Regions from separate parts of the Homo sapiens genome. Here all the other regions are linked to region 1. The links come from fine-mapping of genetic effects on gene expression. A gene starts in region 1. Each other region holds a variant in brackets. All regions are shown on one strand. Distances are from middle to middle. Region 1 holds the start of SDR42E1 (short chain dehydrogenase/reductase family 42E, member 1). Region 2 overlaps PLCG2 (phospholipase C gamma 2). Region 3 overlaps SDR42E1 (short chain dehydrogenase/reductase family 42E, member 1).

The links. PIP is the estimated chance that this variant, and not a neighbour inherited with it, causes the effect. A credible set is the group of variants that fine-mapping cannot tell apart.
Region 2: its variant is the best candidate, but not a certain one, in a credible set for the expression of SDR42E1 in gastroesophageal junction (GTEx, PIP 0.64).
Region 3: its variant is the best candidate, but not a certain one, in a credible set for the expression of SDR42E1 in whole blood (TOPMed, PIP 0.50).

Annotation. Positions count from the first base shown.
Region 1 is chr16:82,009,626-82,013,868 of GRCh38, forward strand. It overlaps SDR42E1 (short chain dehydrogenase/reductase family 42E, member 1), which reads right to left and starts at 1,845. Exons shown (of 3, transcript NM_145168.3): 1 at 1,762-1,845. RefSeq lists a silencer at 1,620-1,769 and enhancers at 2,010-2,099, 2,110-2,189.
Region 2 is chr16:81,919,470-81,923,712 of GRCh38, forward strand. It overlaps PLCG2 (phospholipase C gamma 2), which reads left to right. Exons shown (of 33, transcript NM_002661.5): 20 at 15-195; 21 at 1,729-1,800; 22 at 4,016-4,125. Among named protein-coding and RNA genes, the nearest start is that of SDR42E1, 90 kb to the right of the region's middle. The variant A/G (reference allele first, on the strand shown) is at 2,164.
Region 3 is chr16:81,987,103-81,991,345 of GRCh38, forward strand. It overlaps SDR42E1 (short chain dehydrogenase/reductase family 42E, member 1), which reads right to left. Exons shown (of 3, transcript NM_145168.3): 3 at 1,753-4,243. Among named protein-coding and RNA genes, the nearest start is that of SDR42E1, 22 kb to the right of the region's middle. The variant A/G (reference allele first, on the strand shown) is at 1,896.

The DNA.
Region 1 (4,243 bases):
GGAAGTAACTAACTTGCTTTTGATTTTACAGGCTTATAGGTGGAAGGGGCTTGCCTTGCCTCAGATGAGACTTTGGAGTGTGGACTTTTGAGTTAATGCTAAAATGAGTTAAGACTTTGTGGGACTGTTGGGAAGGCATGATTGGTTTTGAAATGTGAGGGCATGAGATTTGGGAGGGGCCAGGGGCGGAATGATATGGTTTGGCTGTGTCTCCACCCAAATCTCACCTTGAATTGTAGATCCCATAATTACCACGTGTCCTGGGAGGGACCCAGTGGGAGGTAACTGAATCACAGGGGTGGGTTTTTCCCATGCCGTTCTCTTGATAGTGAATAAGTCTCAAAAGATCTGATGGTTTTATAAAGGGGAGTTCCCCTACACAAGCTCTCTTGCCTGCCACCATATAAGACGTAAGATGTGACTTTGCTCCTCTTTTGCCTTCTGGCATGATTATGAGGCTTCCCCAGCCATGTGGAACTGTGAGTCCATCAAACCTCTTAACTTTATAAATTACCCAGTCTTGGGTATGTTTTTATTAGCAGCATGAGAATGGATTAATACAGGTAGTTTAAAGGTTTAGCATTTAAGCCTCAGGACAATCTTCCGAAGTTGTTACTAGTATTATCATCAGCTTTCAGAAATGAGGAAAATAGATCAGAGGTTAGGAACCTTGCCCACAAATTATGCAGGTCATAAGGGGTTGGGCAGGGTTCAGGACTTGAAGCCGGGTCTGTATGACTCTTAACCACTACATGTAATGCCGCACAATAAGGCTGGGACAATACAGATTCGCTTAGGTCATTATCTTATCACTGTGAAAGGAAAATAAATCTTGGGGTCCCAAGATCACTAAGCTAAAGGGAAAAGTCAAGCTGAGAACTGCTTAGGGCAAACCTGCCTCCCATTCTATTCATGTATCTCTGCTCACTAAAATAAAGGCATATCTGATTGCTTCCTTTGGAGAGGCTAATCAAACTCAAAATAATGCAACCATTTGTCTCTTACCTACCTATGACCTGGAAGCCCCCTCCCCGTTTCGAGTTGTCCCGCCTTTCCAGACCGAAAAACATGTTCATCTTACATCTGTTCTTGTCTCATGTCTCCCTAAAATGTAGAAAACGAAACTGGGCTCTGACCACATTAAGAATACATCGTCAGGACCGCCTGAGGCTGTGTCATGGGTACATGTCTTCAACCTTGGCAAAATAAACTTTCTAAATGAACTGAGACCCGTCTCAGATTTTCAGGGCTCACTCCACCTCCACAATTTCTGTCACATCTGATTCATCTGGTATTATGACTAGCCTATAAGGTTTTGTTTAAACCTACTTACCTTTTCCCAACAAATACATGCAGTTTAAATGGGAACCTGTCACTGCCACTTTTAAGTGGCAAACCAGAACCAAGTGATAAAGAGGAGGTAATCGTTCTCCCAAAGTGTGCAGAAAATCAAAGACAGGAATCAAGTATAGCCAGCCACCTGTGGAAAGTTCGGAGCTTGGGGCCCCGATGTCCTTAAAAACAAAAAATGCGGAGGGCCAGTGTTTGAGGCCTTGGCGACATTCTAGAAAGCCAAGCTGCGCCCGGTCCCCTGGGATCAGGAAGACATCTGAAAGGGGATACTCCTTCCCGCCACCCTGCTCAGTCATTCACCACCGTCCCCCACCCCCGGGACCGCCACCTGTCGCGTTCCAGGCCGAGGCGGTCCAGGGTCCCCGCGGAAGGGCGGCGGCCCCCCAACCCCAGCCCAGGCCCACTCACAGCTGCAGGAACAAGGGCGCGGCAGACGGCTACAGCAGGCAGAGAGGCCCAGGCCTCCTAGCTACCCATCACCACAGCTGGGGCGCCGAAGCCGTCGGACCTGCCTCCTGGAGCCACTTCCGGGCCTCTCTAGGAAGCCTGGAGGTCTCGGAGTCTCTATGACGCGCAGGTGTCTCCTTCACCTTCACCGGCGTTGAGGTAGCAGGAGGTTCGCTTCATGAATTCCCCCACGTTCTCTGGCTGTGCGTTCCGCCGTGGCGGGAACCCTTTTAGGGTCACGTCTTCCCCCACGTCCCCTGTCTGTGCGTTCCGCCGTGGTGGGAACCCTGTTAGGGCCACGTCAACTGCTCTTCCCACCTCCAGTGTCTGCTTTTAGACTTTCACCTCCATCTTTGTTTATCCCCAAGGCCAAGACCAGTGCCTGATAAATAGGCACTCAGGTCAGCATTGCTTGGGTGGATGGATGATGGAAAAGGCTCTATAGGGAGGCAGAATATTCACTCTCCATGTATCTCTTTAAGTTTCTATTATCTCTGAGTTTCCATATCTATGTGTGCCCATAGGTTTTCCTGTGTCCCTAATTTTCCTTATTTCTCTTTGTTCTGGTCGCCAAGCAGGCAGTGATGCCAAGACTAATCTTTGTTGCTGAAGGAACCAAGGAATGCAGAAAGGAAAGTTGGCATCCTCACTCAGAGGTCTCCTTTTGAGGCCCATCTTTTGTCTCCTCATCATGAGTGTGGTTCTGTGGATGGTTGCAGACTGTACACGTGTATGGACATGCATCCTGGAATGGACCCCTGGCTGGGGAGGATTTCATTTTAGTGTCTTGGAGGATGGAAGTTTTGACTTCATGTGGTGCTCTTGCCGATAGATCTGGTACCAAAGGCAGACTCAGAGAGGTTCATATCAATTGCCTGATTTACTGCTCAGTTTTCACTAAGCACACACAGTCACAAGGACAAAGCTCAAGTCCTAGGATATAAAAATTAATGAAGCCCAGGTGAAGAAATCAAGAAGTGCCAGTCCCTGGCACTGGCCTCTCTCATAGGATGCTCTGGCTTTCCTGCCTGTCTTGTCCTCACCTATTAGGCAGGCATAAGTCACAGGAGACTTCTTGTGCTAAGCAGTCTTAAAGAACAGCTTTGCAGTGGCTGCTTAGGATACATAAAAATTAGAAGAGAAGAGGAAGGGTATTCAGGGGGCTGAGAGACCAGCTATATGCTCTTGAGGCCAGCAGCTAAGGAAGAAAAGACCCACTGAGGATGCAGTAAAGAAGACAGACTTCCTTTGGGGAATTACAGGATCCTCTGAGGGATACCCAGATTTAGAGTGTGTGGATAAACATGAGAAATGGTGAATTTAAATGTTAGTATTCTTGTGCCACCGAGGACTCTTTTAAAATATAATCAGGCGTGTTTTAAAGGAAAATTACAAACTCTATAATTGCTTCCTTAGCTTCCATCATAATTTAGTGAGTTGATTTTATAAAGGTCTGACCAAGAGATCTAAGACAGAAATGACTGGAGAAAGAAATTAACTTCAATGTGAGTTTGTATATCAGTGTTTGTTTAGTATTGTCTTCCCCCAATAATATGTCCAGGCAGTGGATGCATCTCAGAAAGATCAGTTTGCTGTCACAATTACTCACAGGTGTGCAGTATTTTATTTCTCACTCCGATCACAGTCCAATTCAGTCTGCAGGGAAGGGGAAGAGTGCTGTGCTCCACATAATCACTCAGGGACCCAGGCTTCCCCCATTTGTTATGCCATCATGTTCAACTCTTGGCTGCCAAGGTCACTACAGAAGAGGAAGTAAGAGCTTGGCTTTCCCCAACACTTTCACTTAAAGTCTCCTGCATCCCCTTGAAATTCTTCAATCTCTTCACAGCACTTAGCTCATCTGAAATTATCTTGCATGTTGCTATAATGAAAGCTCCGTGAGTGCAGAGACCTGCTTGATTGATTGGTGTATCTCCACTACCTACTATAGTGTCTGGCATAGAGACAGAATTTTTTTTTTTTTTTTTTTTTTTTTTTTACTGGTGAATGAATCAGCAAATGAATATATGTCACATTTCTGGTTGTCCCTGTTCAAAATCCCAGGCTTGCAAACGACACCTTCTTTTGGCCCAGCTTGGATCAGAAATCACCTCTACCATTGTCAGCTGTGGCAAAAGGACACAAGAACTGCTATAAACTGTGGTCATTTCTAAAGAACGGAAATTATTGTGAGCTTGGTAGGCACATGAGAACTTTGCTATCCAAAAGTGTGGATCAGTAACATCAACATCACCTGAGAGCTTATTAGAAATGTTGGGTCTTGGATCCCATTCTAGGCTTAATAAATACAAATCTGTATTCAGCAAAATCCCTAGGTAATTCCTATGTATAGTAAAGGCTGATAAGCACTGCCCTAAAAGTGCTATGACTTAGTAGTAGTAGCACTACAACTCTCTGAGGTGGGTAAGAGAAACCTTGTAAT
Region 2 (4,243 bases), 90 kb before region 1:
TCTTCCTGCTCCAGGGCTAGGGGCAAGGTAAAGCATTGTCGCATCAACCGGGACGGCCGGCACTTTGTGCTGGGGACCTCCGCCTATTTTGAGAGTCTGGTGGAGCTCGTCAGTTACTACGAGAAGCATTCACTCTACCGAAAGATGAGACTGCGCTACCCCGTGACCCCCGAGCTCCTGGAGCGCTACAATATGGTAGGTGGTGGACTCCCTTGTGATTTGGTGGGATTTCTTGTCTGAGGTTGTAACTCATCTGTTCATGAATTCAGCAAACCTCTGAGTATTCACCATGTATCTGATACTGCTGTAGGTCCTGGGGATACAAATTGAGCACAACAAAGACCCTGCCGTTGTGCTGCTTATAGTGTAGTGTTGGGGAGATGCAACAAATGACATTTAAAATATCCATAGCATGTGCCAGATGGTGATGAGTGCTATGGAGAAAAACACTGGGCAGGTGGATAAGAGGATACAGAGTGATGGGGAAGGGGTTGAAGTTTTCAGAGGGTGGTCTAGGAAGATCTCACTGAAAAGGAATGAGCCATGTGGGTATGTTCTGGAGGAAGAGAGGATAGCATGCGCAAAGGTCCTGAGGTAGAAGCCTGCCTGGAGGCACCAAGAGGAAGTCAGCATGGCCGGAATCAAGCCAGCCCAGGTGGGGGTAGAGCTAAATAAGGATGAGGGTTCACAGGTGACTTATCATGCAGGGGCTCATAGGCCATTGTAAGGCCCTGGCTTTTTCTCTGAGTCATTGGAGAGTTCTGGGTGCAGGAGAGACCTGATGTGGTTACTTTGTCTCCATTCCTACCACATAGATCATTAATTTATTGAAGAGAGATTTATGGCATCCCGATCATGTGCCAAGGACTGTTCTAGATACTAGGAGTACTGTGGAACAAAATCTGCTTTGGGAAATTTAGGTTCTGGAGAGGAGAGACAGATAATATACACAATTAAGATGTTTTCAGGTAGCATGAAATATAATAAAGCAAAGAAAACAGGATAGTGTGAAAAGGGGTGGACACTACCTTAGGCTGTGGGAGTGGAGATCAGAGAAGGCCACCTTAAAAGGGGAGAAATGTGAGCCGAAACATGGAAGATAGCAGTGAATGGGATCTGGGGAGAAGTGAATGAAGGGGTGACTCTAGGTACAGGAGTGGCCACATCACAAGCCCTAAGGTGACATGAGGAACAGAAAGAAGAGTTAGAGAGGAACAGAGAGGTGGTGGGGGTGGATCTTGTCAGTGGTGTGCTAGTAAATGTTCAAACAGCTCTCAGCGGGGTAGGGGGAAGGCACTGGTTTGTAGCATTTGCCAGTTTCCATGGTGTAAATACTTCCATGGAGGTCAGTTTCAAGTTGTTGATGTGCTGTCGTTGAACCTGGAACGTGGAGTCAGGAAGTGATGTACACAGTGGGCTTTTGTGAGCCGGGAGGTCACTCCAGCACACCATCGCATCTTAGGATTTGTGCTTTTACAAAGGAACGCAGTGCCTGGCACGCAGCAGGCCAGGACAGGGCCTCTCTGATTTTGGGTTAGTTTCCAAGTCTGGGGACCTTCTTTATAGCTTCTTCCTGTGTCTACTCATGGGCCAAAAGAAAATTCTATGAGGTTTCAACTCCTCTATCAAAGGATAGGTAACCATAAGGAAGCCTAGAACCCTTGTTATATGTAAGGGCTATTCCAGGAGCATGGATTATTCCATTTCTTTCTTTCTTTTTTTTTCCAGGAAAGAGATATAAACTCCCTCTACGACGTCAGCAGAATGTATGTGGATCCCAGTGAAATCAATCCGTCCATGGTACGGTGCCGAACCTCCAATTCACATGATTTTGGAGTCACGAGGCTGATGTGGATTCCATCTTGTTCCCATGGCAGTTATAACAGGGCAAGGGAAGACTTTGGAAAACCTGGCCAAAATAATTTTTTTTTTTTTTTGAGAAGAAAGGATGATTGATAATATCAAGCCTAGTTTCAGGGAAAATGTTAATAGAATTCCATCCAAATGCAACAGTGTTTTGCTAAAATTCTGAGGTTTGACGAACCACCTTTGGGCCAAATGGCTTCTAATGAAAAGTCTTTCAAATGTTTTTGGCTCGCTGACAGAGCCTGTGGTGTTTATAAATTCCATTTGGTTCACTGACCTCCTTGCAGTGCAAATGCT[A/G]TCTCATATTCCCACCCTGACTCTGTTGTGTAATTTCATGCAGGTAGGGATGGATTTTACTTTCAGCCCTCGGCTCCTCCTTGCCATGCTTTCATCTCAAATTTAGTTTGAGCCGGCAGAGGAAGAACCACAGCGAATTTTCTGTTTGGGGGCCATGTGGCACACAATTAGTGTACAACGCTCACTTAGGAAGGGGCCCTGCTTGTGGGCTCTGTTGAAATCCAGAGATGACTTTCTTTTTCAAAAATTTATAATCCATGGCCAATGCAGATCTGTTTCAGAAAGAAATGAAATCTTGAAAAGTTGTGGGCAAATTGAGCTGTGTGTGAAATGCATTAAGAGACCTTAGTAGCAAAAACTTTTGTTAGTAGTGAAGGATGTTTTGGCGATGAGAACAGTCACCTCTCTAACTGATGACTTTTCCTTCCTGTGGCCTTGGAGACTGGCTGGTCCTTATATCCACCCTTGAAGCAGGATACGCAAGTAGAGGCTGCTCTGTTTGCAGGTGGGGGAGAGAAAGGCAAGGGTACTGCTTAGCCTCTGGCCTCCAGCTGCAGATCCCTGTGGCAGAGCTCCTAGAACCCACATTGCTTCTTATGAAACATCATGCACTATGGCACTAACTCACATTGATGGATCCAGTTCTGGGCTGAGCCACTTAAAACAGCTGGTCGATGTGGGGCAAATTACTTTCTCTCTCTGCATCTCAGTTTTCTCATCTGCAAAATGGGCATACTCATATAACTACTTACCTGTTATGGTTGCTTAAGGATTAAAGGAGATACCTTAAGGCTTGGAATAATGCTTTAGCGATACTATAGTTAGCACTTAAGAAGTGCAAGCTGTTGTCAGTTTTATCATTATACACATGATCTCATTTAGTAGTCTTAACAACCCTGTGAAATATATAAAAATTTAATTCCCATTTCACAGACGGGGGAACTGAGGATCAGAGAGACTCAAACTTATATCATTATTCAAGGGCAGAGCAATGATTTGAACCTACATATCTGACTCTGTAGCCTGTGTTCTGAGGAAAAATTTTACTAGGTTCCCTGTGAAATTCCTGTTCCCATTTCCTTTGGGTGGGAGGAGAAGGAAGCTGCTCATTTAAACAGGTTTGACAACGTCAGAGCTTTTCCCACTAACATTTGCTTGCCGTGTGGGTGTTCATTTATGCCCGCCAGGCAGAAAGCATGAAAGCAAATTCATTGAAGAAAATTTCTAACCAAGGAAGTTCTATCTTATTTAGTTCTGTGAACAGAGACCACCTTTTGATGAATTTCATGGAGGAGAAGCTCAGTTACTCTTGCAAAATGTCAGGGTCCTGCAGGAGTGTAGATAGGGGACTGCTGACCTACAAAAACAGAGCAATGAGGCCCTCAGGACAGGCAGGAAGAATGGGGTTGCCCTTGAGCTTCTGGGAGGCTTGCTGAGCACCGGCACTGTGATGACAGTCTTGGCTTAATCTAAAAGGCATGTCCTTTCTTTGTTGAGGAAATTGAGCAATATTGTGTCACTACAATATAGGGTCACTCCCACCCTAACCCTAAGCCTAACCCTAACCCCAGCGCTAAACCCTAGCCCCAAACCCTAACTCCTAACCCCTAACCCTTAACCCCAACCCAGGTACCCTTGGCTCTGACTAGGCCAGTTCTCCTTCACTCCCTGGTGGCTTTTTGGGGCCTTCGATCCTTTGCAATGCCAGTCCCTCTCCAGCAGATGACTTTGTAACCTTGGCCTGAAGCCTCCTGCTCCCCAATGAGAAGAACCAAATGGTACCTGGGAACGCAGCCGCCTCCCTCCCCTCCTGTCCCTGGCCTGACCTTTTCCTTCTTGTTTTCCCTGAAAGCCTCAGAGAACCGTGAAAGCTCTGTATGACTACAAAGCCAAGCGAAGCGATGAGCTGAGCTTCTGCCGTGGTGCCCTCATCCACAATGTCTCCAAGGAGCCCGGGGGCTGGTAAGGCTGAGTGGAGGCTGGGCTGCTCGGCAGGTGGGCTTGACTTGTCCCTTCTTGGTGATAAGACTCAGGTGCTGGCCAAGTCTGACCCCCTTTGTCATCCTGGGCTGGCTTTGAC
Region 3 (4,243 bases), 23 kb before region 1:
TGGCTGACTCAAGCCCCACCTATAATCCCATCTTCCTCCCTCATTTCCAGTAGAAGAAATTGGAGTCGGCTTTCAGGAAGGCTTTTTAAAAGAAATAGACCCAGCTGGCATTTCCCTTTGGCCTTGTTTATCTTCCCTTTTCTTCTTGCCTGTAATAATGCCTGAGGGTGCAGCCACCTTCTCAGAATCACGCGGTGAGAATCATTAGAATGAGGATCCAACAGAGCCGAAAGATGGGGCCAGTCCCTGATGTTACCACTGAGCTGCGTCATCCCACGTATGCCTACTTCCGGACCCCTTGTTACATGAAAACAACAAACTACTGTTCAAGGCACTGTTAATAATTTTTAAATGCGCAGCTGAATGCATGTCTGATACAGTAGTCCCTATTAAAATTCTAATTCCACTTCTGGATGTCTATCCTAGCAGCTCATTTCAACGTGGATGTAAGGAGATATATATATATAAGAGCATCCATGCCTGTGCTGTCTGATAAGGTGGCAAGCTAGAAACAAACGGAATAAACACCAATAAGGAAATGCCTTAATCTACCATGGTACATTTACACTATGGAATGCTGTTCAGCTGTTAAGAACTAGGTATATCTACCTTATCTGATGGCCATAAATAAGACATATTCTATGCCATCGTTGTTTGAGAAAGTAGCAATCATCTAGTGTTCTTACAAAGGCAAGCTCTAGGCCAGGCGCCACCCAGCTCACATACTGAGCCTCCTTCCTTGGCGCCAGTTGTGCCCTGAATGTGTGTCCAGGGTGGGGAATGGAAAGGCAGTCCAGGCGTTAGATCTACCAACTCAGATTTCACCTTTGCTGGTAGATGAGTCATGCCTATGCCTGGGAGACTGGCAGGGAAGTTGGGGAGGTACATGAAGCATAATCAGAGGTAGGTGGACAGCAGAAGTTAGGAAAGTTCTGATGTGGCACACAGGACTCTATCAACAGCTGGGGAACGACAGGTTTCTTGGGCAGCCTGGGGTAGGGGTGGGAGCTGGCAGTGCCACCTGTTCCTAACCTCTGTTCTTAATAGGGCTGGCCGAGGCAAAGCCATGTTATTTGTTTACTAGGTTTGAGGCAGTAAAATTACTGAAGTAATAACCACAACATTGTGAAGGACAATTGAAGGAGGTTGTTTGAGGCTGTTATCGACTCTATCACTAACACAATGACGGCTAAGTATAAGGAGAATTACCTATACTCAGGCATTTTAGATGGCTTTTTAGGTTTGGAGAAAATGAAAAGCAAAACATATATGATGCATTTCACAAATGCTTTTGGACTGATGTTGCTATACTTACTGGAAAATCAAGTTCCATTTGAATTCACCGAAATGTTTTCCTTTTTGCTTCTTGAATACTGTAGTGTTCTGTGATATAGTTAAATTTGCTGCCTTCGCAAGGTTGATACTGGAATTCTTTCTAGTGTATTATGCTGCATAATTTGTACCAATATTGACTAAATATTTATTCTTTTACATGTTCAATGGCTACTTGCAGAGGAATTTATTCAAATTTATTATAGTTTGCTACTGATATTAGCTTTATTTTGCATGTGCTGTAGAGGAATTCGTTCAGATATATTTTATTTTGTGTCTTTCCTAGTTACCAGTGTTCGGTGAACCACCGAACCAGTGTTTGCTTTCATACGACCGCGTGTCAGATCATCTACTCTTCCACCAGTAAATCTATTTTGCTGAGGGATACACAAAAGAAGCACTGAAAAACTATACATAAGATTTTCTTTAGGTAATTTTTTATTAATATTTCAATGTTGGTAGAATACTGCTACATACCCAGAATTCAGGATTTTCTACTATATTCTATTCTAGTACAAAATGAGATTTTTTCCCCTCAAAATCAGTTCACAATAACTTCTAAT[A/G]CATCTGTTATGAAAAATGCTTAATTCTTCATATAACTATGTGTCTTATATATAGGGTGATCGTACAATTTATTATACAAAATGGGACATACCTGAGAGTGAAAGGAAGCACTATTAAAAATTAAGGTGGGACTACAGGCATGAAACCAGAACTGTCTTAGGCCAACTAGGACATATGCTTATCATCTTTATATACCCGGTGACCTCCTATGTCAGCAAATAAAGAATATATACTAATATCAATAGATCACCATGCTGTACTATTGAGTGAGAAACCGTAGTAGCAGAAGGAACTGTGAGGTGGGAGACAGTAGTATGGGGAAAGACATGAACACCACAGCCCTGTTTTCTATACAAATATATACATATATGAAATTTGGGGACATTAGTAAAAGGGGTCTTTGGCCTTATCCGTAATATTTTAACATTATATAAGAAAAATACATCTATGCATTATTTGTATAGTTACTTTTAAATCTAAGTTACACAGAAGCACTCTGAATGTGTAGAAATAAAAGCTTGATGATTTTGGGTTGGCTTTCTAGCCCCACAATTTAAAACCAACACACACCGCTATGGGTGTTTATAGACATCAAAATTTAGAGCAGAGAGGCATAGATGCCTACTTGTTCTCTAGCATGGTGTAATTGACTCTGCAATCTCAAGAAAAGAAAAACTCATTTTCAGTTTAGAGCTCAAAACGTGACTGAATTGAGTAATTGAAAACCATGGTATCAAGCCTGTAATCCCAGCACTTTGGGAGGCCGAGGTGGGTGGATCACCTGAGCTCAGGAGTTCGATACCATCACGGCTGACATGGTGAAACCCCATCTCTACTAAAAATACAAAAATTAGCTGAGCGTGGTGGCGGGCACCTGTAATCCCACCTACTTGGGAGGCTGAGGCAGGAGAATTACTCGAACCTGGGAGGCGGAGGTTGCAGTGAGCCAAGATTGTGCCACTGCACTCCAGCCTGGGCCACAAGACCAAAACTCCGTCTGAAACAGACAAACAAACAAAAAAAACATGGTAGGCTGGGCACGGTGGCTCATTCCTGTAATCTCACCACTTTGGGAGACTGAGGAAGGAGGATCACCTAAGGCCAGGAGTTTGAGACCAGCCTGGGCAAAACGGTGAGACCCTGTCTCTACAAAAGACGACAGAAAAATTAGCTAGGTGTGCTGGTGCACCTGTGGTTCTAGCTACTTAGGAGGATCACCTGAGCCCAGGAGGGCACTGCAGCAGTGAGCTGTGTCCACAGTGCTACACTTCAGCCTGGTCGACAGAGTGACACCATGTCTCAAAAGAAAAAAAGAAAAGCCACGGTAAATAAACTAATACCTGTTATATGGCAGGAAATCAATGAAACATTTTCACTGAACCATCTCTACCCGCATATGCAGTTGTTTTTTTCAAACTACAGTCTTATGTTGCTAATTAGTTACTGAACATTCCATTTGAACGTCTCAAACTCCACTAGCATGTCTTGCATCTCTTCCTGTAGACACCAGCTTCCCCTCCAAACCCTTCCATCTTTCCCAGCAGAAACACTATTAATTAAGGATCCATGTGCATAGTTCTTGTACAGGTTACAAAAGGCCTCTGTGCCATTAAATCCATACAAGTTCCCCCAAGAGATAAGCAGGGAATGTTTTATCTCCACTTTACAGATGAGAGGCATTTGCTCAAAGTCACATTGCAAATAAGAGATGGCTCCAGGACAGGCATAAGGAAGTGCAAGCAAATGCATGAGTCCCTTGAGCACTGAAGGGCTATAATCACCCACTACCAAATATTTCTTTTCCACTTGGGCCCAAACTTAAGGTATTTGCTGTGCTCAGAGACACTTCCACTGTGAAGTGCTTTGTAAAAAGTTCACCCTTCTTTGGGAGAATTTAAACATCTAAGGGCACCTCTACAGGCTGGACTTTGCATTTTCATTACTTCGAAAGATTTTTATTAGGTCTGTGCTCCACGCCCAGAATAGTGTAAGACTGCAGGGGAGGCAAAGAGCCATCAGCAGCGAATAATACTTGGGCTCTGCTCTCAAGATACTGATTTAGAGGAGAGACTAGGACATGTGCAATGTGACCAATATCAGTATTTGATTAGGTACACAAACAAGTCTTCCTGGAGGATGTCCTCTGGGCTATTAAGTATGGCTCTAACATCCATGCTCCTCACAAAATACATGGAATTCCAGTAGATTAACAGCACCCCCCGCCCACACACCTCAGCTCTACGTAATACATACTCACATGACAAAATAATGGTTTGCTTCTGTAACTTAGTTTGTGTAGCAGAAGTCACTATTTACAGTTACTCATTTTTTGTAACAAATAGTTTAC